Regions from separate parts of the Homo sapiens genome. Here region 2 is linked to region 1. A link means that fine-mapping ties the variant in region 1 to the plasma level of a protein whose gene starts in the linked region. Region 1 holds a variant in brackets. A gene starts in the other region. All regions are shown on their forward strands. Region 1 overlaps PYROXD2 (pyridine nucleotide-disulphide oxidoreductase domain 2). Region 2 holds the start of GSAP (gamma-secretase activating protein).

What was found. A credible set is the group of variants that fine-mapping cannot tell apart. PIP is the chance, under the fine-mapping model, that this variant and not a neighbour inherited with it causes the effect. Protein levels are from antibody-based Olink assays in UK Biobank. Linkage for the fine-mapping came from a reference panel and not from the study's own genotypes, which makes the PIPs less certain.
Region 2: GSAP starts here. The variant in region 1 is the best candidate, but not a certain one, in a credible set for the plasma level of the GSAP protein (UK Biobank, PIP 0.63).

Annotation. Positions count from the first base shown.
Region 1 is chr10:98,402,019-98,406,405 of GRCh38, forward strand. The region is part of intron 4 of PYROXD2 (pyridine nucleotide-disulphide oxidoreductase domain 2); the gene reads right to left. Among named protein-coding and RNA genes, the nearest start is that of MIR1287, 8.9 kb to the left of the region's middle. RefSeq lists an enhancer at 2,903-2,952. The variant C/G (reference allele first, on the strand shown) is at 2,341.
Region 2 is chr7:77,414,279-77,418,665 of GRCh38, forward strand. GSAP (gamma-secretase activating protein) reads right to left here and starts at 2,071. Exons shown (of 31, transcript NM_017439.4): 1 at 1,935-2,071. The coding sequence starts at 2,043. LOC101927243 (a long non-coding RNA gene) reads left to right here and starts at 920. Exons shown (of 5, transcript NR_110073.1): 1 at 920-1,070. RefSeq lists silencers at 1,237-1,526, 1,587-1,796, 2,017-2,366.

The DNA of each region.
Region 1 (4,387 bases):
TACTAGACTTTTTGACAACTGGCCACACAGTAGGCTTATCACCACAAACACATGAATAATATGTTGCAGTGCAACTATGGCATCGCTAGGGGACGGGAATTTTTTCAGCTCCATTGTAAGCTTATGGGACCACCACTGTATATAGTCTATCGTTGACCAACATGGTGGCACATGGCTGTCTTATTATCCTCATTGTACAAAAGCAACACGAGAGGCTCATAGGAGTTAAATAATTTGTCCCAGGTCACTTTAGGAGGTAGGTCTGGGTTTCAAAACCACAGCTCTGTAACTGCAAAGCCCCAGCTCTCAGCACCGGTCTGTAACTGCCCCACTTCAGAAATAAATAATTAAATTTAGAAAGACACAATCAAGCAATGGTTATGTGAAAATCTATACTTACAAGGTAGATAAATTATTCACATCAGAACATTTTATTTACTTTGCAGACTCATTTACTCCAGGGTCACTTTAAATGGAAGTTTCTTTGATGCATTTAAAATATGATTTGATTTACAAATATTTGATTAGCACACAGAATTTTCCAAGAGCACATCCACTTCTTCAAAGCAGGCACAGATAAAACAAAAGGGGCCTGTGCCGCCTCCAGTTTCTGCTGTCGAGAGGCTTCCTTCTCCAGATCCGTGGCCTGCAACCTCACGACTCGAGGTCTTGGCTGGAATGCCACCTTATCAGCCAGGCCTCCCCCGCACTCCCTGCCCCCTCACCCTGCAATATTTTTCTCCAAAGCACTTGTCAGCACATGGCTAATCACATATTTAGTGTTTTCATTGTCTCCCCAAGTAGAATGTAAGCCCTGTGAAGTCAGGGGCATTGTCTGTTTTGTTCACCGCTGTACCCTCCGCGTGTAGACACAGTGTAGTTAATAAGCATTCCGTCGACTCTGAATAAATGAATGCTAGGTTGCAGACAAGGTATGGCCCCAGAGGAGAGAAATGAGATCGGAGAGTAGACGTTTTAGAAAAGCACGAGGAAACCAAAAACAGGCTTTTCCAACAATTACCGCTGGAGTTGCTCCACACTGGAGATGCTCCAGGCGGGCAGGCTCGCCGCAGCTCTGGACACTCTGTGGAGGAGATTTCCGATGCTGGCGGGGGCCGGGGCCAGGAGACGGCTGGGGTCCCTCCTATCCCTAAGATGGAGACATTCTTTATTCTAAGCTAGAGAAACTTCCAGCTTCGTTCTTCTTAATGTAGTAAACTCACTCATACCCAGGAGGCATCCTTAGTCTCTCTCCTGGTCATCCTTGACATCCCATCCGCTGCCTCCAGAATCTGTGCGCGTCTCTCCAAGCCGCCATTTTGGGAACCGCTGCAGCGGCGGCCTAGTGCTCCACATGCGACCCCCTCCTGTTTCCTCCGAGTCCTCACCAGCCAGCAGGTGGGCTGACCTTTGTAAAGTCACAAATCCTAGCAGTGAACTTCCTGATCACACACCTCACTGGCTTCTCGCTGCACTTGGATAAAATGCAGTCCTGCCCCTCCCACCCCCATCTGGTGCTCTCTGCCTGTCTGCTCTGTCCACACTGACCTGCCCTCTGCTCACGCCTGCCTGGGTGGGTCCTTCTCTTCTTCCCTCTGACTGGAGACTGCTTAGATGTCCACATGGCTGCTGCTGGTGACCTCTTGGTACCTGAATACCAGCTCAAATGTCACCTCCTTGAGGAAGATGTCCTTCCTGGTCACCATCTAGGCTGGAATCTCCACTCTCTTTCTCTAATGCTGCCTTCTTTTCTTTTCTTCTTGGCACTCTCCCTGAAGTTCTCTGCCTAAGAGCAGTGTCCTTGCCTTCCTAGTTCACTGCCGTACACCCAAGGGCTTCTCTCAGTGCCTGGCACATAGCAGGTGCTCAGAAACATGGACTGAATGAACGAATAAACCCTCCAAATCAGGGACCTAAGAGGAATCCAAAAGTTATTTTAAGTATAACTAATTGACTATGAATCACTTTTCATTTGATTCATAATGAAACCTAAATGGAGGCTCTTCTAAATGGAGGCTCTGTCATTCTTAATGGTGTTAAATCAAATTTAGCTTAAAGCTGCCTCCTTAAATACTTTAAGCTCAACCTAAAGGTTTCTCTGTTCCTAGTGAACTATAACCTAGAAGGAGGCGTAAACAGACTGTAACCTACTTCTGTGTCAATCGCCGAGTTTTGGCCAATCAAAGGGGACCAACTGTTTAAACTGCGTTCAAATAAGGCAAACACTGAGCTGTAACCAATCCAGCTGTTTCTGTACCTCAATTCCATTTTCTGTACATCACTTTTCACTTTCTGTCTATAAATCTTCTTCTACCATGGAGCTGTGCTGGAGACTGTGAG[C/G]ATACTCCAGCTCGGGAGCCTGATTCATTTATGAATCATTCTTTGCCCAATTAAACTCTATTAAATTTAATTTAGTGAAGGTTTTTCTTTTAACAATAGGTTTAATTATGTGGAGTCTGAATGAGAAGGGGAATGTTAAATAACCATCAGATTATATCCACAAGATTTGTTCGGATTATGAAGCTTTTTTCTTAAAAAACAGAAAAAAAACCCAAAAAAACAAAATGAAAGCAAACCCTTCTTTTATTTACCCCATGAGAGTTCTCAGCATGCACAGTCATCCTGGGTGGAAATTGTTGGAAAGGGTGTGTGTGTGTGAAGGGTGTATCTGTGTGTGTGTCTAAAGGACCAGAGATACAAGAGATTTAAAGGGTGTGGTTCTCAAAGTTATGTTCTGGGGGCCTCCTCTTTCAGAATGACCTGAGAATGCCATAAAAACGACCGTTTCTGGGCCCCACCACTGCCACAGAATCAGACTCGTGAGCAAGAACCCCTGGGGTTTCCCCAGCAGTTTCCCCAGCAGTTTCCCAGGTCATACTTTGTGGCCCTGCAAATTAGAGCCCTACCTTAGAGAGATTTCCAGGAGAAAAGCAAGAGCAAAATGAATAAGGCTGAGTGAGACCCAGAAGGTCAGTGAGGGAGGGGAGGGAGGATGGGATTGCCTCTGGCAGTGAGGTCAAGGCTGGCCCAGGGGGAGATGGGGAAGGTGGCTTATGGCTGAAGGGGATGAAAAGCCCCCCTCCACACCCCCTTCTCCACCAGTGCAAAGGCTCTGCCCTTCCAGCCTGGATTCCATCATCCAGCGCAGGGCCGCTGCAAAAGCAAACTCATTTACTAGGTGGATGGAACCGGGAGGTGATCCAAGTCAGTGCTCGCATTGACAGCTGTGGAAACTAACACCCAGGAAGGGGAGGCAGGCCCTGGTGGGGACCACAGCGGGTCAGTGGAGGGTGCTTTGGCTCAAGGAGGGGAGGAGGGGCAGTGGTGCCAAAGCCAAGCCTCTCACTTTAGTTGAGGGCTCACTCTAATTGGATACAGCCTTATAAGTGGCAGGGTGGGTGAGTAGTCTCCAGCCATGGGTCTTTCTGGAGCCTCAGTTTTCTCAAGTGCCAAATGGGGGTAATAATAATAGCGACAAGTACTGAGCCCTCTGTGCACCAGGCACTGTGCTGATGTGGCCTTAGGAGGCAGCTGCTGTTACTATTCCCTCTTACAGATGAGGAAAAGAAGGCACCACGTGGTGAAATCACGCAGCTGGTGAGCTGTGGAGCAGGGAGGCAGACGCAGCCGGCCGGTTTCCAGCAGCTCCAGTCTCAGCCTCTGTGCACACTGCGCTGGAGCTGCCAGGGGCACTCTATCACCACGTTCACCGCAAAGTACCAAGAGCCAGAGACGTGTGAGTCTGGGCGGTATTGGTACCAAGAGGCCTGAGCGCATCATAGCTCAAGAACAAGGAGTAGGAGACAGTCAGGCCTTGGCTTGAATTCTCCATCACTTTCTAGCTGTGTGAATTTAACCCCTGAACTTTAGTTCCCTGATTATAACATGGCTCTTGACTTACAGGTAAGGATCAATTGAGATAGAACATTAAGGTCATAGCCCAAGATGTGATGCTGGTAAAATAAACGCTCTCCATTATAGTTTTGGAAAGACAATATTCCTGGAAGGAGTTTAGTTGTCCTCCTGTCAATGCCCTCCAGGCTGTCAATGTCCTGTTAAAACAAGGTGCTCCAGATGGGGTGAGTCCTGCGTATCACACAACAGGACTGCTTTCTCCCTGCTCTGAGCTCCATACTCCTATTACTGCAGCCCAAGGCAGAGGTTAAAGCATCTACTCAGTTCACTTGGGAGCTTCTAGTTCAAGGAACACTATGACAAATACCATTTCAAATAAGTAACGTTTTTTAAAGAAAGAGAATAATCAAGTGAAAATGTCCATTCTGTGATTCTTAGTCTCTTAAATCAGGTTTGCCAAAAGGAGGGTCCCTGCTCCCCAACATCTGCCACTATGAATAAGTGGTGCATTTATAAACTGCCTGCTGCTATG
Region 2 (4,387 bases), not on the chromosome of region 1:
TAATGATTTCCACAAATGTGTGTTGTAACTGCTGTGCTAGAAATGAGACAGAATCCCAGATTTCCCTGCCACTGCTATAAATTACAGAACAGGAATTAATTTGTGTGGGGGTATTTTTGAGCTACCACCCACTGGTGATTATCAGAGGTGATAATTCTCTTAGTATAACAGGGCTAATATCTTACCAAGATATTTGCTCTGAAAGAGCAAAATACTACCAGTATCAGAAAAGCTAGTATTTCCAGAAAGTACCTTCTGAGGACCTAGAGCTATCTGTTGTTTAGTGGAAGGTCAATACACAAGTTTATATTTCTTCAGAGATGAGCGAAAGATACAAGGAAGCCAGGTCCCAGTGGGTCACACACAGCTTTTCAAGCACGACACACATTACGGAAACATAAGACTGTGGCATTTCACACTCATCTAACTTCTCATTTGCAGACACCTGCCATTTAGCAAAATAAAGTGGGAGTCCAGAAAAAGGAGTACTTGGTAGTAGAAGACAGAGCTGCCTGTTGTATTTCAAAAAGTTAAGCCTTCAAAAACTTTTCAGACATGTGGGCGACTTTTTTTTTTTTTTTTTTTTTTTTTTTTTTTGAGACGGAGACTTACTCTGTTGCCCAGGCTGGAGTGCAGTGGCGAGATCTCGGCTCACTGCAACCTCTGCCTCCCAGGTTCAAGCGATTCTCCTGCCTCAGCCTCCCGAGTAGCTGGGATTACAGGAGCGTGTCACCACGCCCAGCTAATTTTTGTATAAAATTCTTCCTTGACCACCCTCTCCACCTCGAAAAAAAGTAAAGCCTTACTAAGCATGACACTAATGCAAACTCAATGCATACGCTACACAAACATATAACTCCTTATTTGGAGCTAATAATATTCCAAGCCAAGGAAACCTACAAATAATTTCGCTATAGTCATAGGAGAGTGTGAAGATACAAGATAGCAACTTGATATATAACTCACATCAAGAAAACTTTCACCAGCGTTTAAGGGAAAGGAGTTGTAGATGTGGGTCATTTAATACCCACTTCCAAATTCACTGAAGTGGACAGCGCCCTACACACAAGGTGAGACCTACAGGCATCATTGCTTTGAAGCTGCATTTAAGCTCTGAAGCTCCAATATTTATAGAAGACTTTTAAAACTTTGTAAGAAATCACAAAGTTCCCCTTCTTTAAAACAGATCAGTGCTGGGAAGGCTCAAAAGTCACTTTCACTCCCTTACCAAATCATCAAAAAGCCCGGAGTGGCAGGGCCGGGAGCCGAGCATCTCGCGCGCAGCCCCAGCCTGCACAGGTGCGGAGCTCGGGGGCGGCTGGGGGCTCTCGCCCCGCCGCGCGCAGCCTGGAGGCGGCCCCTGCCCTCTTGCGCCTCACCGCCGAGGCCCATGTCCCCTGAGCCACGGACACGGTTCAACAGACACATAAACACGTCTCGCAAATGTGGGGACAAACTGTTCCACCGTTAGGTATAGGGTGGTTTGCTTGGTGGTCACGGATTCTTTCTCAAAACGTGAAGCTTCCAGGAGCACTCCTGTCTTGGCAAAGCCCCTGCGCTGCCGATGAACCCCCCGGGAGGTGGGATGCGGCCGCTGAGCTGAGCACGACCCTCTGCCCTCGCCGTGAGGTGATGCTGAGGGAACCGCCAGCGGCCCGGCCCCTCTGCCAAGGGCGAATTTCCGCGGGCCGGCAGCGAGCCAGGCGCCTCAGGCCCCACGGCGACCTGGCCCGGGCTCTGCCCCCAGACCTTCCGCCGTGGCTGGGTGTGGGTGGCAAAGCCAAAACAGCCCTCTGAGGAGGGGAGCGACGCCCTCGCACCAGCCTTCTCAGGGCGGCGACGCCCCGGGTTGCTCCCCACCGGGTCGGAGTCCGGGGGGTATGAGGGACTCCCACTCCCCGCCCCCACCCCTCTCCGCAGCGCGCCTCCCGCACCTGCGCCGCCGCTTCCGGCCCCGCTGGCCTCCGACACTGCCCGCTGCGCCCGCAACCACGGGAGCACGTCCTTCCCGAGGTCGAAGTCGGCGACCAGGCGAAGAGCCATCGCCCGGACACGACCACCGGGCGGCTCTGGGGCCCCGCACCGCGGGCATTCCCGGCCCCGCGTGGCCGCCTCGCCCTCGCGTCCCCGCTCCCGCCCCCTCTTTCCTCTCCCCCGCCCCCTGCTGCTTTCGGTTCTGCAGCGCCCTGGCCTGAGAAGCTCCGGCACCAGCTCCTCCCGGCCGGCGGCCCGCACCTGAGCCGGAGCCGGAGCCGGGCACGGCGGGTAGCGGTGGGGCGGGGTGGACCAGGCGCCAGGACCAGGCCCGCCGGGGCGGGAGGCCTCCGCGCGCACCTTCGGGGCTGAGGATAGAGGGCGCAAAGACGTGGGCGCTTCAGGGCCTTGGCGAGGCCGCTAGCCCAGTGGCTTCCAAACCTGGAGGGTCGGCCTATTTTCTTTATTCTACAAGTGCCTCCACTGTGCAGCAAAGTGTGGAAACCACTTGGCTTGAGAGAGCTGGGTCCTCTGGAGCAGTTCAGGGTCACCACAGAAGTAGGCCGTCTCTTGGGCCTATTCGCCCCAGCTTCGAGGTGGTGGTGCTTTATTAGTGTTATTAAGGTAATGAGTAGCAACTGGGAGCGTATGACGAAGGTGATCCCATTGTAAGAGAAACGCTAAAAGGGGTTAATGCGCTTGATACAAACAGCGTCCTTTTTGCCTTTTAACTCTAGTACATCTCATTTGATGCCTTGAGACATGAAAACTGAATCTTAAGTCTCCACGCAAACCCTCTGCCTCCCACCAGGGTCTAACAGAGCACTCTGGAAGGTGCTCGACAATTACTGAAGAATGAGTGAATACAGTAATAAAGAATGCTTTTTCACATGCTTCCGAAATTAAGGTCTGAAAACTACTTGTATTGACGTCATCTGGGGCACTATTTTACAATGCAGACTCCTGATCTCTACACCTGGACAAGACCAGAAACGTGCATTTTACCCAGAGCCTCGGGTGATTCTTAGGCTTACTAAGTTTGAAAACTACTCCAACCAAATGTAAAAGAAAGTCTTGAATTTTTTTCCCTCCTAGAGACATGTTTCTCCAACTGAGGTAATGGATGATTTCAGGTAGAACTCCATTACTCACCACCATATACAGAGGAAAGTCCTCCCACCCGGGAAGTGCATGCAAATTTAAGATAAATGCCTAATGAAGCTGCTAATATTATCAGTGAATAAAAGGAAGGCCACTGGAGCCCCCAAGGAGCTAATGCAACTATTTCATATCAAATAAGCTTGTTGCCTTTGTCATACAGAAACACTGTTGGCCAATTTTTTAAAGTCAGTACATTTCCATTGTTTTTATTTTTGCAGTTAACTTCTATTTTTGCCAGGCAGGACTGATTTTATAGTCAAGCAGTGATGATATAAAAAATTCTCTTCAAATTAAGTGAAAAAGCCAATGTAAAGAAGGTGAGAAACAATAAGATAATGATAGAAAGATGTGGCCAAAATCATGAGGGTGCTATATGAAGGCATGTGTATCAGTTAGGATTAGATTCTCCAGAAGTTAATAAGAACTCAGATTAACAGTAAATTAAACACACAAGTTTTATTCTGTCACCTAGCTGGACGTAGGCAGAATAAAGCTCTTAGGGCAGGTTCCTGAATTTATCAGGGACCCAGGCTCCTTCCAGTTCTTTGCTCCACCTGATCCTGAGTGTACCCTTGTCCTCATGATCAAAGAGGGCTGCAGAAGCTTCAGCCTTCACGTCTGCATTCCAGAAATCAGAATGGAAGAAGAGGAATAAAAAGAGGATGCTACCTCTCTTTTAAGGATACTTCCCGGAAGTTCTACACAACATTTCTACGTATGTTTCACTCACCAGAATTTAGTCACATGGCCAAATGTAGCTTTCAAGGGAGGCAAGGAAATATACCTGGCCATTGCTGTGCCCAGATAAAAATCAGGACGGTATTACTGAAGAAGGTGGGGAAAGTAGATATTCAGAAGCAATTAGAGATCTCTGTCAGAGTATGATACCCGATTCCGGCCACTGAGTTGTAAGGAAACCTCTGCTATGACAGATTTCTCTATTCTTAAAACAAGAGACATGGGAAAAGATGGTCCCTTTCAGTCTTTAACTATTTCGGGATCTAGATATGATTGCTGGAATTTCAGCCATCTAGCACACTGAAAATGGAGTCATTGGAGTCAGGAGAGTCCAGAGAACTGCAGAGAAGAGAAACCTTGGTAAATTATTTTTGGAGCCATCCTCTGCCCTTTCTGATATTAGAGATGTTGAATTTCCTATTGTTTAAATGATATTCAGTCAGACTTTTATTTTACTTGCAACCAAGGGTTTCAATTTTAAGGAGTGATCATTTCAAAATTTAGGGCACAGGCC